2 separate regions of the Homo sapiens genome follow, and region 1 is linked to region 2. Evidence: fine-mapped expression QTL. A gene starts in region 2. The other region holds a variant in brackets. All regions are shown on one strand. Distances are between the middles of the regions. Region 1 holds the start of LOC124901208 (small nucleolar RNA U13). Region 2 holds the start of NME5 (NME/NM23 family member 5).

The links. PIP is the estimated chance that this variant, and not a neighbour inherited with it, causes the effect. A credible set is the group of variants that fine-mapping cannot tell apart.
Region 1: its variant is the best candidate, but not a certain one, in a credible set for the expression of NME5 in lung (TOPMed, PIP 0.88).

The regions. Positions count from the first base shown.
Region 1 is chr5:138,114,053-138,119,433 of GRCh38, reverse strand. It overlaps NME5 (NME/NM23 family member 5), which reads left to right. Exons shown (of 6, transcript NM_003551.3): 5 at 498-616; 6 at 3,670-4,259. The coding sequence ends at 3,753. It overlaps LOC124901208 (small nucleolar RNA U13), which reads left to right and starts at 4,130; the gene lies at 4,130-4,232. It also overlaps the pseudogene RNU6-460P. The variant G/C (reference allele first, on the strand shown) is at 3,053.
Region 2 is chr5:138,136,879-138,142,199 of GRCh38, reverse strand. It overlaps NME5 (NME/NM23 family member 5), which reads left to right and starts at 2,772. Exons shown (of 6, transcript NM_003551.3): 1 at 2,772-2,829; 2 at 3,415-3,548. The coding sequence starts at 3,420. It overlaps BRD8 (bromodomain containing 8), which reads left to right. Exons shown (of 27, transcript NM_139199.2): 26 at 1,318-1,495; 27 at 2,034-2,430. The coding sequence ends at 2,126.

The DNA.
Region 1 (5,381 bases), 23 kb after region 2:
CTTAGATCAGGAGTTTGAGACCAGCCTGGCCGACATGGTGAAACCCTGCCTCTACTCAACGTACAAAAATTAGCCAGGCATGGTGGCACACTCCTGTCTACTTAGGAGGCTGAGGCAGGAGAATCACTTGAACTCAGGAGTTGGAGGTTGCAGTGAGCTGAGATTGTGCCACTGCATTCCAGCCTGGGCAACAAAGCGAGACTCTGTCTCAAAAAATAAAAATAAATAAAAATACAAAAATTAGCAGGGTGTGGTGATGCGGACCTGTAGTCCCAGCTACTCGGAAGGCTGAGGTGGGAGAATCACATGAACCCAGGAGGAGGTTGCAGTGATCTGAGATTGCATCATTGCACTCCAGCCCAGGCAACAGAGTAAGACTCCATCTCAAAAAAACATATAAAAAAATAGAGAAAAGTTCTTTAAAAAGAACCTTTTTAATGATTGTATAGTATTTAATCATTATGTTTGCATCAATGAGAATACATTTGTATTTGCAGTGATTGTTGAGCCCATTCCAATTGGACAAGCTGCTAAGGACTATTTAAATTTACATATAATGCCAACTCTGCTTGAAGGACTCACAGAGCTTTGTAAGCAAAAACCAGCAGATCCTTTGGTAAGAAATATTTTTATTCACACTTAAGAATATTGTCACCAGGCGTGGTGGCTCATGCCTGTAATCCCAGCACTTTGGGAGGCCAAGGCGGGCGGATCCGAGGTCAGGAGTTTGAGACCAGCCTGACTAACATGGTGAAACCCCGTCTGTACTAAAAATACAAAAATTAGCTGGGCGTGGTGGCATGTGCCTGTAATCCCAGCTACTCAGGAGGCTGAGGCAGGAGAATCACTTGAACCCAGAGGCAGAGGTTGCAGTGAGCCGAGATTGTGCCACTGCACTCCAGCCTGGGTGACAGAGCAAGACTCCATCTCAAAAAAAAAATTTTTTTTTCTATAAATTGTCTGTAGTTTTCACGTTTAAGACATTGTGTCTTTGAAATACTGCGAATATAGCTGGGCGCAGTGGCTCACGCCTATTATCCCAGCACTTTGGGAGGCCGAGGTGGGTGGATCACTAGGTCAGGAGATCAAGACCATCCTGGCTAACACGGTGAAACCCCATCTCTACTAAAAATATAAAAAATTAGCCGGGCGTGGTGGTGGGTGCCTGTAGTCCCAGCTACTTGGGAGGCTGAGGCAGGAGAATGGCGTGAACCCAGGAGGCGGAGCTTGCAGTGAGCCGAGATTGTGCCACTGCACTCCAGCCTGGGCAACAGAGCGAGACTCCATCTCAAAAAATAAATAAGTAAATAAATGAAATACTGCAAATATTGAGAACCTTTTTAAAATAAACATTTCTAGAAGGTATTTCATATACATGTTAGATATGTATAATTATTGATTACTTATTATTTTCTTGCTGTGTTTTATTTATTTATTATTATTATTTTTTGAGACGGAGTCTCACTCTGTTGCCCAGGCTGGAATGCAGAGGCGCAATCTGGGCTCACTGCAACCTCCGCCCCCCAGGTTCAAGTGATTCTCCTGCCTCAGCCTCCTGAGTAGCTGGGATTTACAGGCGAACACCACCACGCCCGGGTAATTTTTGTATTTTTAGTAGAGACAGGGTTTCTTCATGTTGGCCAGGCTGGTCTCGAACTCCTGACCTCAGGTGATCCACCTGCCTTGGCCTCCCAAAGTGCTGGGATTGCAGGTGTGAGCCACCGCGCCCGACCTATCTTTCTTTTTTTTTGTAGCCATGCTAGTAGATAACACAAAATGGTTTCTCACGGTGGTTTTGATCTGCATTTCCCTAATGGCTAATGTTGAACATCTTTTCATGAGCTTCTTGGCCATTTGTATACCTTCTTTGAAGAAATGTCTATTCAAATTGAAGTCCTTTGCCCATTTTTAAACTGGGTTGTCTTTTTGTTGAGTTAAAGTTCTTTGTATTTCTAGATGTTAAACCCTTATTAGATATATGATTTGCAAATATTGTCTTCCATTTTGTAGGTTGTCTTTTCACTTTCTTGATAATGTCCTTTAATGTATAAACATTTTTCATTTGATGAAATCCAATTTATTTATTTTTTCTTTTATTTCTTGTGCTTTTGATGTCATGTCTAAGAATCCATTGTGAAATCCAAATCCAAGGTCATGAAAATTTACCCCTGTGTTTTATGTTTTCTTTTAAGATTTTTTTTCTTTCCTTTTTTTTTTTTTTTTTTTTTTGAGACAGGGTCTTTGTTCCCCATGCTGGAGTCTGGTGGCGCCATCTCGGCTCACTTCAACCTCTGCCTCCTGAGTTCAAGTGATTCTTGTGCACCAGGCTGCCAAGTAGCTGGGACCACAGGAGCACACTACCACACCCAGCTAATTTTTAAAATTTTTTGTAGAGATGGGGTCTCCCTATGTTGCCCAGGCTGGTCTTGAACTCCTGGTCTCAAGTGATCTTCCTACCTCGGCCTCCAAAAGTATTGGGATCACAGGTGTGAGTCACTGGCCTCTTTTAAGATGTTTATTGTTTAAGCTCTTATATTTAGGTCATTGGTCCATTGTGAGTTCATTTTTGTATATGGTGTGGTATAGGGGTCCAACTTTATTCATTTGCATGTGGAAATCCAATTGTCCTAGTACCATCTGTTGAAGAGACTGTTCTTTCTCCAAGTCCAGTGGTACCAATGGGCTTGGTACCATTGTCAAAAATTTGTTGACCATAGATGCGTGGGTTTATTCCTGGATTCTCATTCTTTTTTTAAAATATGAAATGCTTAATAAATTGTGCATCATCCTTGCACAGGAGCCATGCTAATAATCTCTCTGTATCATTCCAGTTTTGGTATATGTGCTGCCGAAGAGAGCACTGGACTCTCAGGTCCATTCTATTGGTCTGCATGTCTGGCATAAGGATGTCATTACCACACTGTGCTGACTACTGTAGCTTTGTAGAAGGTTTTGAAATTGAGAGTACAAATCAGTCCTCCAACTTTGTTCTTTTTCATGATTGTTTTGGCTCCTCAGAGCCCCTTGCAATTTCATATGAATTTGAGGATTG[G/C]CTTTCCATTTCTGCAAAAAAACTTGTTGGACATTTGGCAAGAGCTGCACTGAATCTGTAGATTGCTTTGGGAAGTATTGACATCTTAACAATATCAAATCTCCGTATCCATGAAAAATAATGTCTTCTCATTTATTTAGGTATTCTTTAATTTCTTTCAGCAATGTTCTACAGTTCTTAATGTATAAGCCTTTCGCTTCTTGGGTTAAATTTATCCCTTGGCATTTTATTTGTCTTTATGCTACTGTAAATGAAAGTGATTTAAAATTTTTTTTTGGACTGTCATTGCTGATGTATAGAAATACAGTTGATTTTTGTGTATTGTAACCTACATCTTCGCTGAATTTATTAGCTGTAGTGGCTTCCTTGTAAATTCCTTAGGGTTTTCCACATGTAGGTTTATGCCATCTGTGAAAAGAGATAGTTTTACTTCTTTCTTGCCAGTTTGGATCTATTCTTGACAATCTTGCATAATGTAAATCCAAATGTTTCCATTTTTAATGGTCATTTTCTTAAAGTGATTTTGAAAACTGTTTAAGTTTCCAATTGATATAGTATATATTGAAAGGAAATATGTAACTGTTTCTTAACTTAGGTTGTTTTTTTTTTTCCCATAGATTTGGCTAGCTGATTGGCTGCTGAAAAATAATCCTAACAAACCCAAACTTTGTCACCATCCAATTGTAGAAGAACCTTATTAAAAAAAAAATCCTCGAAAGAACAAATCATGAACTATCTTATTATAAAAGGCTGTACTTCTACTGTTTGAAAAAATTATTTCTAGGGTTTAAGTAACTACAAGTAAAATAAATTTATTTCTTAAAAATAAGTGTTAAAGGAATAACTATTCTATGAAGCAGATAACATTAAGGTAAAATATAGGCTTAGAGTATGATTTTAACAATGATGTAACACTAGGTAATGGAAAACTCATGTAAGATGTTGCTAGATGTTTTTGTTTTTCTTAAGTTTGAGAAGTAAGACATAAAGTTTAGTTATACATTTTCCCAAGCACATATCCTATATCTAAATACATAATTAATGCACAGTTGAGACAGTCTAGTTTAAAAGGCTTAGGTCCTTTTGTAGTCCATAAGCATGGTGATTTGGTTTCATGCTCATGTGTCAGATATGCTTCCCTCAAACCTTGTTACAGCATCATCACATTACCTGTTTGATGTAAAAAATAAAAAATAGAAAGGTGTAAGTATATAAGTAATTTTTTGGTACAATGAAAATGGCCAGAACCAGGGGATGATCTTAAACTAATCACTTGGATAACTATTAGGCTGGTGCAAAAGCAATTATGGTTTTTGTCATTAAAAAACAATGGCAAAAACCACAATCACGGCCGGTCTTGGTGGCTCACGCCTCTAATCCCAGCACTTTGGGAGGCCGAGGCGGGTGGATCACGAGGTCAGGAGATCGAGACCATCCTGGCTAACACGGTGAAACCCCGTCTCTACTAAATATACAAACAATTAGCCGGGCGTAGTGGCGGCGCCTGTATTCCCAGCTACTCGGGAGGCTGAGGCAGGAGAATGGCGTGAACCCAGGGGGCGGAGCTTGCAGTGAGCCGAGATCGCACCACTGCCCTCCAGCCTGGGTGACAGAGCGAGACTCTGTCTCAAAAAAAAAAAAAAAAAAAAAGAGAAAAGAAAGTATAATGTAAGAAAATGTGAAAACAGAAAGATTGTTAGCTGAAAAAAAGTATGTTACAAAGCAATATGCACAGTGTACGCCCATTTGGTTTTGGTTTGGTTTTGGTTTTTTTTGTTTGTTTTAATAAGATAGGGTCCCGCTATGTTGCCCAGGCTGGTCTCAAACTCCTGGGCTCAAGCAATCCTCCTGCTTCGCCCTCCCAAAGTGTTAGGTTTATAGGCATGAGCCATTGTGCCCAGCCATGTGTTCTCATTTAGATTAAAAAATGAATAAATAAATGTGTATAGAATAACATGTAGAAGGATACCCACTCAAGTGTTTTTATCTATAATCTCTGGATGGTAGAAATATTTTATTTTTCTTCTTTTGCTTAGCTGTATTTTAAATTTTTCTACAGCATTTATGTAACTACTTTTGTGATTAAAAGAAACATTAAGATTACGAAAAATAAGCCGGGCGCGGTGGCTCAAGCCTGTAATCCCAGCACTTTGGAAGGCCAAGGCGGGCGGATCACGAGGTCAGGAGATCGAGACCATCCTGGCTAACACGGTGAAACCCGGTCTCTACTAAAAATACAAAAAAAATTAGCTGGGCGCGGTGGCAGAGGCGCCTGTAGTCCCAGCTATTCGGGAGGCTGAGGCAGGAGAATGGCGTGAACCCGGGAGGC
Region 2 (5,321 bases):
GAGGGGACGAATGCTGTATCCTCACATGGCAGAAGGGACAGAAGGATAAGAGGGCACTCTCTTCGATATGGAGCCCTTTTATAAGGATGCTAATCCCATTCATGAAGGCAGAGCACTCATGAATTAATTACCTCCCAAAGGCTCCACCTCTTAATACTGTTGCACTTGGGATTAAGTTTCAACATGAATTTTGGAGGGGATACCATCATTCAAACAGCAGAGACAATGATACCATCATTCAAACAGCAGAGACAAACTTCTTTAGGAATGAGGAAACTAAAGCTCAGAGGTGCTTGGTCATGACTTGCTCGTGATCAACCAACAGTTAATAGCAGAGCTAGAACTAAGCCCCAGATTCTTACCTGCAGTTCAGTCTTCTTTCTACACTGCTGTGCCTTCTCTTATATATCTACTTTCTGTGTCTCATTAATATTGTCTTAATATTCACTTGATCCTTTTTTCATCTCCATGAAAGGAGAAAAAAATTATTCTTAGCTTTTTATTTGTGCAGTAAGAGAAGTAGATGAAATAATATATGACTATACATTGTAAACAGCAAATAACTACTGTGTGATAAACTGATGATTGGTGCTCTTTACAACTTTGATACCTGGGGCCAGCACTCCTCCTCTGATAGTAGAATATAGTGGCTTGACCTGTGGGCTCTGGAGTCAGGCTGCCTCTGAATTGGAATTCAGGCTGTGTGCCTTTCAGTGAGTACTTAACCTCTTTAGATTTCAATTTCTTCATCTGTGAAATGGAGATAATAAGGCCGGGGGCGGTGGCTCACACTTGTAATCCCAGTACTTTGGGAGGCCAAGGAAGGTGGATCCCCTGAGGCTAGGAGTTCGAGACTAGCCTGACCAACATGGTGAAACCCTATCTCTACTAAAAATACAAAAATTAGCTGGGCATGATGGCGCACGCCTGTAATCCCAGCTATTCTGGAGGCTGAGACAGGGGAATTGCTTGAACCTGGAAGGTGGAAGTTGCAGTGAGCTGAGATTGCTCCATTGCACTCCGGCCTGGGCAACAAGAGTGAAACTCCGACTCAAAAAAAAAAAAAATGAGATATTAATGATACCTACCTTACAGGTTTATTGAGAGGATTAAGTGAGTTAGTATAGAAATACAGTGTTTGGCCCATTGTAAACAGGCAAATATTAACTGCTGTTGCTATTTTATTATCTGATGAGGGTTGTTATCTTTGCTACTGTTTTCATTAAGAACTGGTTAGTTCTTCAAGAGAACGTGTTAGGTTATCATATGTTCCACATGAAGGTTTGATTTTCTTTGTTTTTTCTTGGCCACCTGCAGACCCATGGACTTAACTAGCCTGAAGAGAAATCTCTCTAAGGGTCGGATTCGCACCATGGCCCAATTCCTGCGAGACCTGATGCTGATGTTCCAAAATGCTGTAATGTACAATGACTCTGATCATCATGTATACCATATGGCTGTGGAGATGCGGCAAGAAGTCCTGGAGCAGATTCAGGTACTGTATGCAGATACCTGTAGCCTCTGGAATCTTGATTTCAGAACGCCTATGAGAATAAAGGTGATTTCGAGGTGACTGTGTTCTCAGAGTTTATTTTTAAAGGTGATTAAGGCCCTGAAGGATTGATAATGTGCCTGCTGGTTTGGAAAACCCTGAGCCTCAGTAAGTCCAGCTCTGATAGTGAAGTAGTCTAGGAATGCAGGCAGCAGTGAAGAGCTCTCAAGAGAGCTGAGGATAGACAAGTAATGGGAATTCCCGCTTCCAGAGCCTCAAGTCAAGGGCTAAACTCCAAAGAGGCTGGAGTCACTGTGTATTTTTTGGTTGCTTCATCTGTTGTTATTAATGTACGTTCACACTTTCCCATCTTTAGGGGATAAGATATAGTAGCTAGAAGACATTTGTGGGTTTCTTTTCTGGGTAGCATCATACTTTAAAGAAAAAAGTATAGTTGAGTCTATTTGCCAAAAAAATAAACTTGCAATACTTTAGTGTTTAAGGTTCATAATAGCTTGCTATGTGTTCCTTAACCCTTTAGGTACTGAATATCTGGTTAGACAAAAGAAAAGGCTCAAGTAGTCTGGAAGGAGAACCAGCTAACCCAGTGGATGATGGAAAACCTGTTTTCTAACCTGGAGCTGCTATCCTGACTTTTTCTAGAGTTTGAATCTCTCCCGGAACTCTGACCTAGAGAGGATCCTGGTACTTCTTTGCCATGTCCTCATTTTCTTTTCCAACAAGAATAATACCTTAACTCACAACCAACGAGTCAAAGATGCATGTGGACATAATATAAAGAAAAAAAGGGGAAGCTGAGGTTTGGATTTATGCCATAAATGTTGCCCACATCTTTGTTCCATCGGCTTGATTTAAAGACAATTCCATTAGATCTTTTCTAAGCCTTTTACTCTATAAATAAATGTATTTACACAATAGGAATATTGCTTTTTAATGACTAGATAAGCTGGGCATAGAGGGCACAGCATCATCTGGTGAAACGAAGGTATCTGACACGGGTCATTTACATATACCGCCTGGAAAGGAATGGTTGGGGGAGGGGTTCTTATCATTTATAGAGTAGGGATAATTGAAGCATCCTTCAAACGGGAAGAAGGATGAAATAAGATAAATTATGAGTAAAATGTCAGAAAACATCTAGTGCTCTAAGATTCACAAGGAGAATAAAAGTGACTGGCTGGCTCCCTTTGGTTAAAACGAACTGGCCAGAAGCTGCAAGGTTCCTTGCTGGGATTGGCTCTCTGCAGCCACCGTCCCCACGCTGGGGCTTCAGGTCTCCTAGCAACAAGTTGTACCATATGAGGACGGCCGCTGAGGTGAGTACTTAGAGAGGGTCAAATTCAGAATTTGCAGGTGCAACCCGGAAAGTCCCCGCGGACCTAGAGGCCCTGCTTTTCAATTAGCCTGACCCTATGCACAGAGAGGTCCCTGCGGGACAGGGTCGCTTCACAGAGGCAGCTGGCCGAGGCCGCTCACCCGCCGCTGTAATGGTGTGTGGTTGCCCACCAGCCACCGTCCCCTCGAGCCCCCACCACCCGCTCTACCGCCCCCTCGAGCCCCCACCACCCGCCCCACCGCCCTCTGCTGCCTGGGGCTGTTGCTGGTTCCAGGCCTTCGGGTCGCCCCTTGGCCTCTGGTTATGTGAGCCCATAGTCCTTCCTGCCTTGGTGACATCGTATACGAAAAGCCGGGGCTCGATTTGGACATAGTAGGAATCCTATTATTGAGACCCTGTATATAGAAAAACATGGCAGTTTCTACCTTCATCAGTTAATAAAATCAAGTACCTACTATTGCTATTCTTAATCATAATTACATTGAATTTGCGATGGGGGTGGGGGGAAATGCATGTCATTGCAGTTGATACCTGTTAAGAAACTCTTAATTTGTGCCCTGAAAAGCCATAATGGAGATATCAATGCCTCCACCTCAGATATATGTAGAAAAAACTCTGGCCATTATCAAACCAGATATTGTTGACAAAGAGGAGGAGATACAAGATATTATTCTTAGATCCGGATTCACCATTGTTCAGGTAACTTCTGGGTATGATGATTCATGCTTTTTTCCTCTCTGCCCTTAAAAAAAAAATGCTTATGTAAATGTGCCTACCCATTTAAACCCTTAGTGTTCAGCATTAAATTTAAGTTTATTCTTCTAAGTATAAAAGTTATATGTGATAGTTTTTAAAAGGATGTAAAATGAGAAATAAAATGGACTTTTCCTTCACCTGTCCTCTTTTACCCCAAGTCCCAGGCTCCAGAGAGAGGCAACCACTTAACACTTTCTGTTCTTCCAGGAGTTTTCTATGCATTTATAAACATTTTCCCCCCATAAAACAGAACAGTCCCTTTCCCTTGACCCCTTTACAGAGTCCCTCAGATAGGATTCCAGATCATTGCATCTGAATTGATCTCACTCTTCCTAATTTCTGTGTAATATTTCCCTGTGTATTAGAACTACAATTTATTTACTTGATCTTCTATTGATGGAATTTTAGGCTATTGGTACTTTTTTCAGTTATGGCATAACATTTAATGTTTTAAGCCTTATGTTCTGCAATTAGTAAACATTGTCATTCTAGGGGTTTGAAAGTGAATATAAATAGCATTGTTAAGGATAAATCAAATAGAATTGAATATTTTTAATCTTCCTCTTTTATAGTTTTTTTTTCTTTTTTTTGAGACAGAGTCTCCCTCTGTAGCCCAGACTGGAGTGCAGTGGTACGATCTCGGCTCACTGCAACCTCTGCCTTCCAGGTCCCGGTTCAAGCAATTCTCCTGCCTCAGCCTCCTGAGTAGCTGGGATTACAGGCATGCACCACCATGTCCAGCTAATGTTTGTATTTTTAGTAGAGACGGGGTTTTACCATGTTGGCCAGGGTGGTCTTGAACTCCTGACCTCGTGATCCACCCGCCTCGGCCTCCCAAAGTGCTGGGATTACAGGTGTGAGCCACTGCACCCCGCCTCTTTTACAGTATTCTCATTCGAACTTCCAATTTTTTATTTTCTCCCATTTATACAGTGTCATATTGCTTATTCAGTCAGTATTTTTAAAAATAAAGAGAAAATGGCGGGTACGGTGGCTCACGCCTGTAATCCCAGCACTTTGGGAGGCCGAGATGGGTGGATCATAAGGTCAGGAGTTTGAGACCAGCCTGGCCAATGTGGTGAAACCCCATCTCTATGAAAAATACAAAAATTAGCTGGGCGTGGTGGCGTGCACCTGTAGTCCCAGCTACTTGGGAAGCTGAGGCAGGAGAATCGCTTGAACTCAGGAGGCAGAGGTTGCAGTAAGCCAAGACTACGCCATTGTACTCCAGCCTGGGCAATAGAGGGAGATCTGTCTCAAAAAATAAATAAATAAATAAAGAGAAAATATCAATCTTCAGAAAAGATACGGAATTTCAGTTGAGCTTCAAAGGACAGGTGGAGTCCGAGAGTAGGGATGGCACAAGAAAGTGTTAGGAAGTATTTAATATGATTAAAGACTCAGGTAAATAACTTTTTAGTAAATGTTAGGAAAACTGGTAGCCACTGAAAAATTTGGATCAAGTATTATATACCAGGATAAACTCCAAATAAACCTGAGATCTACATATTAAAAAAATTAAACCATGTAAGTTCAGGAAGAAAAGATAATGGATTTATTTTGTTGTTGGAGTAGGACAGCCTTTTTTTTTTTTGTTATGACTTAAGGTCTAGGAGCCATGGAAGAAAAGATTGATAAGATTATATCAACAAGGCCAGGCACGGTGGCTCATGCCTGTAATCCCAAAACTTTGGGAGGCCAAGGTGAGTTGATCAC